Homo sapiens: one gene and its partner. The protein of the gene in region 2 purifies or fractionates together with the protein of the main gene of each other region. This does not show direct contact. Each region holds a gene or a part of one and is shown on either strand. Other genes may lie near its edges.

Region 1 (5,235 bases), on a different chromosome or scaffold from region 2:
GATGTTGGCATTCGGACCCCAGCTCGCTGGGGGTGGGTGTGGGCCCTGGCGGCACAGCCCCCTTGGACCCCGCCTCAAGCAGCGTTTGCACTGCCGGGCTCCTGAGGACGTCCGTGGCACAGCCGAGGATGGCAGACGGGCGGGTGTTCGGCCTGCCCTGCTCAGCGCCCTCTGCCGTGTCTGTCCCCAGCGCCTATGGGACCCTGACCGTGCGCAGCCTGCTGGACACCAGGGAGCACTGTCTGAACGAGTTCAACTTCCCGGATCCCTACTCCAAAGTAAGTGCAGTGTGCCCTGGCCTTCCGCTCGCTCTTGTCCCCGTCCCGCTGGCACCGCGTGTCCTGTCTCTGTCCCGCTGGCTCGGGGCATCCTGTCCTGTCTGAGGCCATGCAGGTTTGGTAGCGGCCCCAACTCCAGCCCTGGCACCACAATAGCCAGGGCCTCTGTTGGCAGCATCTGCTGAGGAGCTGTGTTACCCCCACAGATGCTGGGGCCACTTAGGGGTGGGGACTGCTGTGACTAGAGAAGAAGGGTGTGAACCCCAGTTTGGATGTGTTCCTGACAGACACAGGCTGCCTGCCTGCAGGAGCCAAGGGCCTCCCAGCTTCTGTGAGGGTGGGCGATTGTGGTTGGGGACTGCTTTCCCCTCATGGGGAGGGGCTGGAACCCTGGACCACCCTGGCTCCCTCCTAGGAGGCTGGACAGTGACCAGAGGCCTCCTATCCCGGCAACGTGCAGGGCCGTGCAAGGTGGGCCTTTCCGGGCGTCCGTTTTGCTTCCCCAAGTCTGGCGGCCAGAGCCCTCCTTGGCCCTTTCTGCCAGGAGGCAGCGGGCAGCAGCGGAGGCATGGACTCCTCCCACCTCTTCTGGGAAGGGCCAGCGCCATGCCTCCCTCCCCTCACACGCCGAGCCTTGTGACAGCGGAAGTCTGGGTGTCGAGGGTTTTGAGGCCAGGGCTGTGGGTACCTGTGGGGGCCGTGTCCTCCACTCTTGTCCTGCCCTTCACCCACTGCTCAGTCACATGGGGGCTGAAGTTGTCCTGGGCCTCGTCCTCAGAGCCCCGTGCAGCTGTGCGCTGGCCACTGTCCCGGACCGATAGGCTTGTGCCTGGTGGGGTCCCAGTTGGGCCTGAGTCTTCGATCCTGAGGGGCGTGGTATGGAACAGGCTGCGCCTGGCAGGTGTCCAGGGTGGGCTGAGGCCACGTCTTCACTCAGGCCTGGCATCTGGCACTCTCCACAGGTGAAGCAGCGGGAGAATGGCGTGGCGCTGAGGTGCTTCCCCGGGGTCGTGCGCTCCCTGGACGCGCTGGGCTGGGAGGAACGGCAGCTGGCGCTGGTGAAAGGCCTCCTGGCGGGGAATGTCTTCGACTGGGGGGCCAAAGCCGTGTCTGCGTAGGTGTCTGCGGGCTCGGAGCAGGCTCTGCAGCCTGTGGGTGCCTGTCCTGCCCCAGGCTTGCGGGCAAGGAGGTGGAGCGGGTCCCTTGGGGGTCACGTGGCGCTTGGTGGCTTGGTGGCTCAGGGCTTTGGGGCCCAGGGAGTGCACATGGCAGCAGCGCCAGGGGCTGGGCAGGGCGCAGCGCCCTTGTCTGTCCCCTCAGGTTCTGAGGAGGCCCCTTCCTTAAGCATGGGTGCCGCAGAGGCCTAAGGGTGTGGATTTGAAAATCGGGGCTGGCATTTTCTATTGTCAGAATCCAAATTCATGTTTCCTATGTGTGGTAGGAATTAAACATTTCTGATGTGATGATCAAAGGGTGCTTTGCAAAGCAGTCCCCTAGACTGGCCTGTAGGACACGCAGGTGTCTAGCACCTGGCGCCGTCTCCTGGGGCTCTGAATCTTGAAAATGAACCCCCCCACCATCATTTACCTTCACTCCCAAAGAAGCTGCTTCCAGTCTCTGGGCCTCCCCAGGCGGCCGCACCACCTCTCGTGGTCCCTGCTTTTTTTCATGTGGGGCTGGAGGGAAATGCCTGGGTTCTCAGCCCTCCCTGGGTCCCACTCGTGTCTCGAGACATAGATGAGAACGCCGCCTCCAACCATGGCTGCCCCTCTGGGACACAGGCCCCTCCCGCAGCCTGTCAGGAGCATTGGAGGAGGGTCCTGACCCATGGGATTGGCCTTGTGGCTGGGGGCTCCCCACACCGCCTGCATGGGTGCCAAGCACAGGGACCATACTGCGGCTGCCAGTCACCGAGAGGCTTCCCTGGCCCCGTGGCTCCGAGTCCACCTTGAGAAACAGCCTGTGCTCTCTCAGACCTTTGCTTGGTGGCCCCCTGAGCCTTCTGCGGATCGCAGCATGTTAAGAACGCTGTATCTGTTCTGCCTGGGAGTGATTTGGGGTCTTCACGTTGAGCAGCTGCCTCTGTCCCACCTGGGAGGGATTTGGGGTCTTAGCAGCTGCCTCTGTCCTGCCTGGGAGTGATTTGGGGTCTTCACGTTGAGCAGCTGCCCCTGTCCCACCTGGGAGGGATTTGGGATCTTTACATTGAGCAGCTGCCTCTGTCCCGCCTGGGAGGGATTTGGGGTCTTCACATTGAGCACTGTGGCTGAAGGTTTTTGTTCTGTTGTCTTAATTTTCTTTTCTCCTCCTCCATGCAGTGTCCTTGAATCCGACCCCTACTTTGGGTTTGAAGAAGCAAAGAGGAAGTTACAAGGTACGGATGGCCAAGTAACTTGGGGCCTTGCCTTGTGCTGGGGCCATGCCTGGACGTTCTCTGCAACAGCGAATGCAGTTGCGGTCGGGGTCCAGGCACCTCCCCTGCTCAAGGCTCTGTCAGCTGGGCTTCGGGGGCGGGGAGAACTTGCTTCCTGGAGAGACGAACACCTGAAGACGCGTCTCCCTGACCCCTGACCTGGAGCACCGGGCTAATCATGTGTCCCTCTCTCTGTCTCAGAAAGACCCTGGCTCGTGGATTCCTACAGCGAGTGGCTTCAGAGATTAAAGGTATGTGGAGGGGCCTCCCACCTCTGCTGCTGGGGACACAGCGGGGCCCGGGGGGGTGGTCACTGGAGGGAGGTGGGCATGGGCTGCCTCGGGTGGCCCTCCCCTCCTGTTAGAGTCTCACCATCCTGCGAGCCAAGGGTCTCAGCATCCCCTGCCCCACACTTGCCCTCCTGTCGTGACTGCTTCTTAGGTCACCTGCTCTAGGCACAAAGCCTTGCCAGAAGAGACAGGCACTGGCCCCTGCAGGCCAATCCGTCCCTGGCGCCTCTGGGGTCCTGAAGCCCCAGTCTCAGCCCCTGCAGGCTGGCCCGTCCCGGTGCCTCTGGGGTCCTGAAGTCCCGGTCTCAGCCCCTGCAGCCCAGCCCAGTCCCGGCACCTCTGGGGCCCTGAAGCCCCTGGTCTCGGCCCCTGCAGGACAGCCCATCCCTGGCATCTCTGGGGCCCTGAAGCCCCCAGTCTCGGCCCCTGCAGGGCAGCGTGACGGGCAGCAGGGGTGCGGACTGACTCGCTTGGATGCGCCTGTTCCCAACTGAACGTCCTGGTTTTGTCTTACAGGGGCCCCCTCATAAATGTGCCTTAATTTTCGCAGATAACAGTGGAATAGACATCATTTTGGGAGTCTTCCCCTTTGTCAGGGAGCTACTCCTTAGAGGGACAGAGGTGAGTGTTGAGGTGGTGGGTGGGGCCCTTCCCCTGGGCTTCTCTGCTCTCGGTGGGGTTGGCGCCGCTGTGGGCCTCTGGCGGTGGTCGGGGCTCCTCCGGACGCAGCAGGTAGGTGCAGGCAGCAGCACGGGGGAGGCGGCCCAGAGCCGTCATCTGCTGGGGTGGAGGCTCCGAGCCCCCTGGGCTCAGGCTGAGGGTCCATGTGCTGAAGCCCAGGGTTGACGCCAGGCTCCTGGAAGGGTGCTCACAGCAAGGAGGCTTTGGGGCTGTGACTTCACAGACAGGCAGGTCCCAGGGGCAGGCTCTAAACTCAGCTCTGCCCCTCGGCTCAGCTCCCTCCCAGGGGCCACAGAGTGGCAAGGTCAGGCGAGGTCCCTGCTCCTCAGCAGCAGGTGGCTGGCCAGGCCCGCTGGGCACAGCACCCTCACCCAGCCCAGCCACTCGAAGGCCGGGGTGCACGCAGGCTCCATGCTGGGCCAGCACAGGTTCCTAAAGAGCCTGGGCCCTCCTCCTGCAGGTCATCCTGGCGTGCAACTCAGGCCCCGCCCTGAACGACGTGACCCACAGCGAGTCCCTCATCGTGGCAGAGCGTATTGCGGGCATGGACCCTGTCGTGCAGTGAGTGTTGGCGGGCAGTGCTGGGGGGGCCTTGATGGGGAGGGGCACCAGCTGGGCAGAGTGGGCCATGGGGATTGTCACTGAACTGGGAGCTCCTGGGGGCACTGACCACCTTGTATCTGGCAGCTCTGCGCTCCAGGAAGAGAGGCTGCTGCTGGTGCAGACGGGCTCCAGCTCCCCGTGCCTCGACCTCAGGTAACCCCGCACCCTGCACCTGTTCTCTCCCTCCTGGGCTCTGTGCCCTCTGTGCCGTGCACCTGCACCCAGGTGCATGCGGGACACCGACCTCAGGACTGCCCCTGCGGCCTCTCCTGACCCCAGGCCCGGATTGATCTCAGGAGGGGACAGATATGCCATCCCCGAAGGTGGCCTGGGGAGGGTGAATGGATTCAGGGTCTGAGGTGGTTACACATGGGCTGGGTTTGGGGACTTGGGGCAAGAGGGGCCAATGTCCCTGTGGCCACTCAGCTGAGACCGAGGGCGACCTGGGCAGCTGCCCGGTGTCTGTCACCTCCGTGTCCCACATAGATGCCAGGCTCTGCTTCTGTGGTTCTGGAGGTCATTAGTCAATTGTATGTGGTGCTGTCTGTCCTCCTGATTGCAGAGGAGGAAGGAACCCCTTAAATGAGCGGGTTCTGAGTGCTGGGGCCGCTGGTCTGCTCTGCCTGGTGGGATTCTCCAGTGCTGGCTTCATCTGTGCCCCAGCCCCACTCTCACCAACAAGGAGGGCGTGAAAATGACAAGGAATCCATCCCTAGAGTTCACAGGAGATCTAGGGCAGAGTTTCCAAGCTGCAGCTGCTCTGGCCCTGTGTGAGCTGCTGCTCTGAGGAAGCCCCAGGCTGAGGCAGCTACCAGGCGGAGGCTGGGTTTGGAGGCCTCCACATCAGGGAATTGAGCGGTAGGGGTTTCAGCCTTCACGTTGGTCGCCGCACTGTATGGGAAGTGGGGTCTGGGGTCTGCTTGCCCAGTCTCACCGTCCTCTTCCTCCCCAAAGCCGCCTGGATAAGGGG
Region 2 (5,235 bases):
GGTTTCTAATGTGGTTTACTGGATGTATGTTGGTGGCATTCAATCACAGAGCCACACACATATTTTAGAGGAAGAAGCTGAAGCATTTGTTTTTTGGTTTTTGGGTTTTTTTGAGACAGAGTCTCGCTCTGTCACCTAGGCTGGAGTGCAGTGGCTCAATCTCGGCTCACTGAAACCTCCACCCGCCCCCCGAACCCCCCAGTAGCTGGGATTACAGGCATGCACCACCACACCCAGCTAATTTTTTGTATTTTTAGTAGAGATGGGGCCATGTTGGCTAGGCTGGTCTCAAACTCCTGGCCTCAAGTGATCTGCCCGCCTTGGCCTCCCAAAGTGCTGAGCCACAGCGCCCGGCCAGAAGCATTTGGTTTTAAACATAAGCATTTGGTTTTAAATGTAGGGCATCTCAGTAAAATCATCTACAATTTAATGGACATAACACAGATAATTCAGAAGTCAACATTCTTTTTAGAATACCTGATAAACATATAATTAGGTTCTTATAGAATCACAGTGGCAATGATAAAGGGATATTAATCAAGAGTTACAGATAACAGAGTTTCATGAATAACTTGGAAAGTATAAAGTAATTCAAATTGGAATGAAGTACATTAAAAACACACTTCCATCAATACCTCAGCTGCTCTGCCATTGTAAAGGCGAAAATGGTTACAGGCTTTAAGATTGAGTGCGATGGTACTATCAGGAATTTGCTGAAGGTAAACAGCCAAAACTTCTTGAGACACATCATAGTAATCCAACTTGTAGTAGCAGAGGGCCACATAAACATTAAGGGCAAGGTATTCCCTATTAGATGAAAGAATTAGGGTTAACCATTTAAGTCTACTTCACGGAAATGTCAAATTACAAAGCTCAAATGGACAAGGCAAAGAGGACAGTTCATGAACCTGCCTTATGAAGAAAGAGGGCAAGATATGATCAGTATAATTTTTTTCTTTTTGCATTGCAATATTTGGGTGTTTTGATATAAGTAGAATGAAAGATGACTAGAGAAGAAAGGGAAAGTTCACGCTGTTCACACTGAAAAACTAATATATGCAATAATTGAACATAAACACAAGCACACTCCACACAGAAGACCAACAGACAAGACACATAGGCTTGATGGCTGGAAATGGAAGCAGGTAGGAGACTAAGAAGGTAATGCAAAAGAGGATGGAAAGAAGGGGGATGAGATATTTTTGGGAAGGGAGAGAGAGGCCAAGTGTTTAAAGTTGGAATGTAAATTCTTAAGAATGATTTGTATCTAATTTTGTCAGCAAGTTACCTACGATGTAACTATAACACTAAGTTTGATACATCTAGACCATACATTTCAACTGGGGTAATATCAGTATTACCCCCAAAGGGGAAAAATTGGTTCTTAATGGGAGGATGAAAAAATCATAATCATTTTATATGTAAAGCACAGTTATACATATAGTACATATATGGATATATATTAATATACATCTATCAGTATATTAAAATTTCATGGGAGGGCAATTGGGGGAAAAAGTCTTTTAGAAGGGTGACAATGCAAAAAAAGGTAGAGAAAGCCTGATTTAGACAATATCTAATTCTTAATCTCACCAAATTATCAACTAAACAGATTTGAACACATAGTGGTACTAGATCCAGAGGACACTAGATTCTCAAACTAGTTAAAGAAGAAACTAACAAAATGAAAGGAATGGAGAGTGGGCATAAAAGGACACAGACCTGTTATCTAGCAGTATTCGCTTATATATATCTATAGCTTCTTGGTAGTGAGATCGCATATAGTGGATTGAGGCCAAACTGAGTTGATCTTCTGTGACATCCTGAAGATTTTGATGAAAGCTCATCAATTTTTTCTCATCATTAAACTAAAATTGTGAGAGTGGAAAAGACATGTAAAGATTCATATTAGTGTTGTTAGAGAAATCAATATCTATGTGATAGAGATTTTAACTCTTCCTTCTTTAGCCATTGTGTCTCTCTCTTCTTCCTATTTCCCTTAGGTTCTTTGTCTTCTACTTCATTTCTCCTGCAAAGAAACAATGGAAATAGCCTCTGGAGGCATAGCTTGACAACGACAATGGAAAGCCCTTAGGTTACAGTTAATACTATTTGACCCTTCCCCTTATCTTTTCTTTTTCTTTATATTTTCTCCCTTTCCTTTTCTTTTTCTGTCTACTCTCTTTACTATTACCTGGTAACATTTTTAATCTGTTCTTTCTTTCTTCTTTTTTTTTTTTTTTTTTGAAACGGAGTCTTGCCCTGTCCCCCAGGCTGGAGTGCAATGGCACGATCTCGGCTCACTGCAACCTCTGCCTCCCAGGTTCAAGCAATTCTCCAGCCTCAGCCTCCCAAGTTCCTGGGATTACAGGCGCATGCCACCACGCCCGGCTAATTTTTTGTATCTTTGGTAGAGATGGGGTTTCACCATGTTGGCCAGGCTGGTCTTGAACTCCTGACGTCGTGATCCGCCCACCTCAGCCTCCCAAAGTGCTGGGATTACAGGTGTGAACCACTGTGCCCAGCCAATCTGTTCTTTCATATCTCGTTCTTCTTGGTAGACAATAGGGAATCAAAATGTATTTCTCATCATGTAACCTAGTGTATTCAATTTTTAATTTCCTGCTCTACATTTTTTCATCCTTTCTTCAGTTACTATATATTGTTGTTGTTTGAGATTGTCAGAATTCTATTCCAACCTTGTAATGCTTATTTTGTTAGATGGCTGCCGCAAATATTAGCTGCCTTTTGCTTATATATGGGGCAGAACAGATATATTTTTGACAGTGACCCTTAATATGTAGATTGCTCACTCCTGCCTGTTACAGAGAATGACTTATTAGCTTAAAAATTTTGTAAAGAATTGTCTTCTGTAGACTATCTAGTTACATGGAAAAATGTTCATGATACATTTTTAAGTGAAAAGCCTGGTTATAAAACAGAATATATACTATGATACAAATTTGGCAATATAAATATACACATATATACACATATAAAAATACAAATTTTTTAAAGACTGGAAGAAAAGAGAGTAAAATATTACAGTGTTAGCTCTAAGTGGCAGTCTTACAGGAAATCTTGATTTTTGTGTGTATGCAATTTGCTATTTTCTAAAAGTACTATGATGAACATGTATTATTTTTGTAATCAGAAGAAAAACACAATAAAATATATTTCTTTAAATTCAATCAAAGACTTTCACTACTAATAATATTAGAGTAGCTTGTAGTATGCAGTGCTCCCACCAAGAACATCTAGAAAATCTTAAAAACTACTGAAAAATCTGTGTAAAAGGGGCAGGGGCAGTGGCTCACGCCTATAATCCCAGCACTTTGAGAGGCTGAGGTGAGCAGATCACTTGAGCTCAGGAGTTTGAGACCAGCCTGGGCAACATGGTAATACCCTGTCTCTACAAAAATTGGCTGGGCATGGCAGTGCACACTTGTAATCTCAGCTACTTGGGAGGCTGAGGCACAAGGATTGCTCAAGCCTGGGAGGCAGAGGTTACAGTGAGCTGAGATGGCGCCATTGCACTCCAGCCTGGGTGACGGGGAGTGATATCCTGTCTCAAAAAAACAAACAAAAAAAATCTACGTGAAGGGTTCAGAGAGCTACCAAGTGAGTGAAGACTTGAGATACCAAGATCCCAAGCAGAACAGAAGTGCAAAGAGGTGATTCTGATATTTAGTACCATTTTTTTCTCTAATGGTACCTATCAATTCTCAATTGGTGGCTGAGTTGCTGAAAACTAAGCGAGCTTCAAGAAGTCTTATGGGCTTAATGGACAAAAAAATAGAGATTGGGGCCCACCAAGCTATCAGTTGGGACCCCTGGAAAGCTACCCTAGAAACAGAGGTAAAATGGAAATAGACCAGCTTTAAATTGTTGCAATCTCTGACAGGTATCAGTTGATTTGCCCCTTTTCTATGTGCCTGCCAGAAGTAAAAGTAAATTCTAAATCCTCTCTGGAAGAAGACAAAAGCATCCAGAGACTCGAATTATCTCTCTATATTTTAATATACAATAGCCAGCATTAAACACAATATTGCCAAGCAAACCAGGAGATAAGAACATTTGACTGAAAACCAGGAAACAGCTGTCCAGAGATACACTATTGGAATTACTAGACATGGACTTTAAAAATAACTTATTATCAATATATTTAAGAAATTAAATTAAAAATTAGGAAATTTTAACTGGAAATTAGAAATTTAAAAAGTAATAAAATGTAAATTCTAAAAATAAATACAATAACTGAAATTAAGAACGAAATAGATAAATGGAATAGCTGGTTAGACACAGCTGAAGAATGATGATTAGTAAAATAAATTTCTGTGGAAATATACAGAAAATGTGACAAAGTGTTTACATGCGATACAAACAAAAGGTCTACATACATACATACATACATATTACTGGGAGCCTAGAAGGAAAGAAGAGAGTATAGAGCAGAAGCAAAATTTGAAGTAACAATGACCAAGGATTCTTTTAATTAAAAAAAGAAAAGACCTCGAGCAAGCACTATGAACCTGATGTAGTGTAATACAAAGAAAACCATATCTGGGAATATTATAGGAAAAGTGCTAATAACAAAAACCAATGTATAAATCTTAAACATGATCAGAAAAAAAATCTTCATAGGAGCAACAATTAGACTGATGGCTAACATCTCAGTAGAGACAAGGACCTAGGAAGCAATAAAGCAACATCTTCAAAATGCTAAGCAAAAATAATTACCTACCTAGAACTCTACACTGAGAAAAAAATCCTTTAAAAAACCATAGTCAAATAAAAATATGTTTAGACAAAAACTGAGAGAATTCATCACCACTAAAGGAAATATTAAAGGAAATTCCTCAAATGGAAAATGATTTCAGATAGGAGCACAAACATGCAAGAAGAAATGAAGAGCAATGGAAAGGAAAAATATGGCTAATTATAAATGAATATTAACTGCATAAAACAGTAATAAAACAGTCTTATGGGATTAGAAACATATAGACACTTAAAATATTTTTCAAATTTGCACATAAGATGGAGAGTAAATGAGTTTAAATGATCTAAGGTCCTTTAATTTTTCTAGAAATTGGTAAAAGTACTAATCAATATCAAACTTTTTAATATGCAAAATACACATGATATGGTAACTGCTAAAATAATATTCCCAATGTACATAACTAGCAAGCAAATCGAGGATAAATATATAGTTTTAAAAATCAATCCAAAAAAAGG

What was found.
Region 1: the proteins of IFT56 (region 2) and PANK4 purify together in Homo sapiens (affinity purification with mass spectrometry; one large-scale study listed by BioGRID and IntAct). This does not show direct contact.

Annotation. Positions count from the first base shown.
Region 1 is NC_000001.11:2,509,045-2,514,279, reverse strand, and holds part of PANK4 (4'-phosphopantetheine phosphatase), read left to right. Parts: intron 1-190; coding exon 191-278; intron 279-1,240; coding exon 1,241-1,392; intron 1,393-2,596; coding exon 2,597-2,652; intron 2,653-2,892; coding exon 2,893-2,942; intron 2,943-3,497; coding exon 3,498-3,602; intron 3,603-4,122; coding exon 4,123-4,223; intron 4,224-4,349; coding exon 4,350-4,418; intron 4,419-5,219; coding exon 5,220-5,235. UniProt on the Homo sapiens protein: Phosphatase which shows a preference for 4'-phosphopantetheine and its oxidatively damaged forms (sulfonate or S-sulfonate), providing strong indirect evidence that the phosphatase activity pre-empts damage in the coenzyme A (CoA) pathway.
Region 2 is NC_000007.14:139,143,778-139,149,012, reverse strand, and holds part of IFT56 (intraflagellar transport protein 56), read right to left. Parts: intron 2,030-5,235; exon of another isoform or gene 1,869-2,029; coding exon 1,723-1,868; intron 808-1,722; coding exon 636-807; intron 1-635. UniProt on the Homo sapiens protein: Component of the intraflagellar transport (IFT) complex B required for transport of proteins in the motile cilium.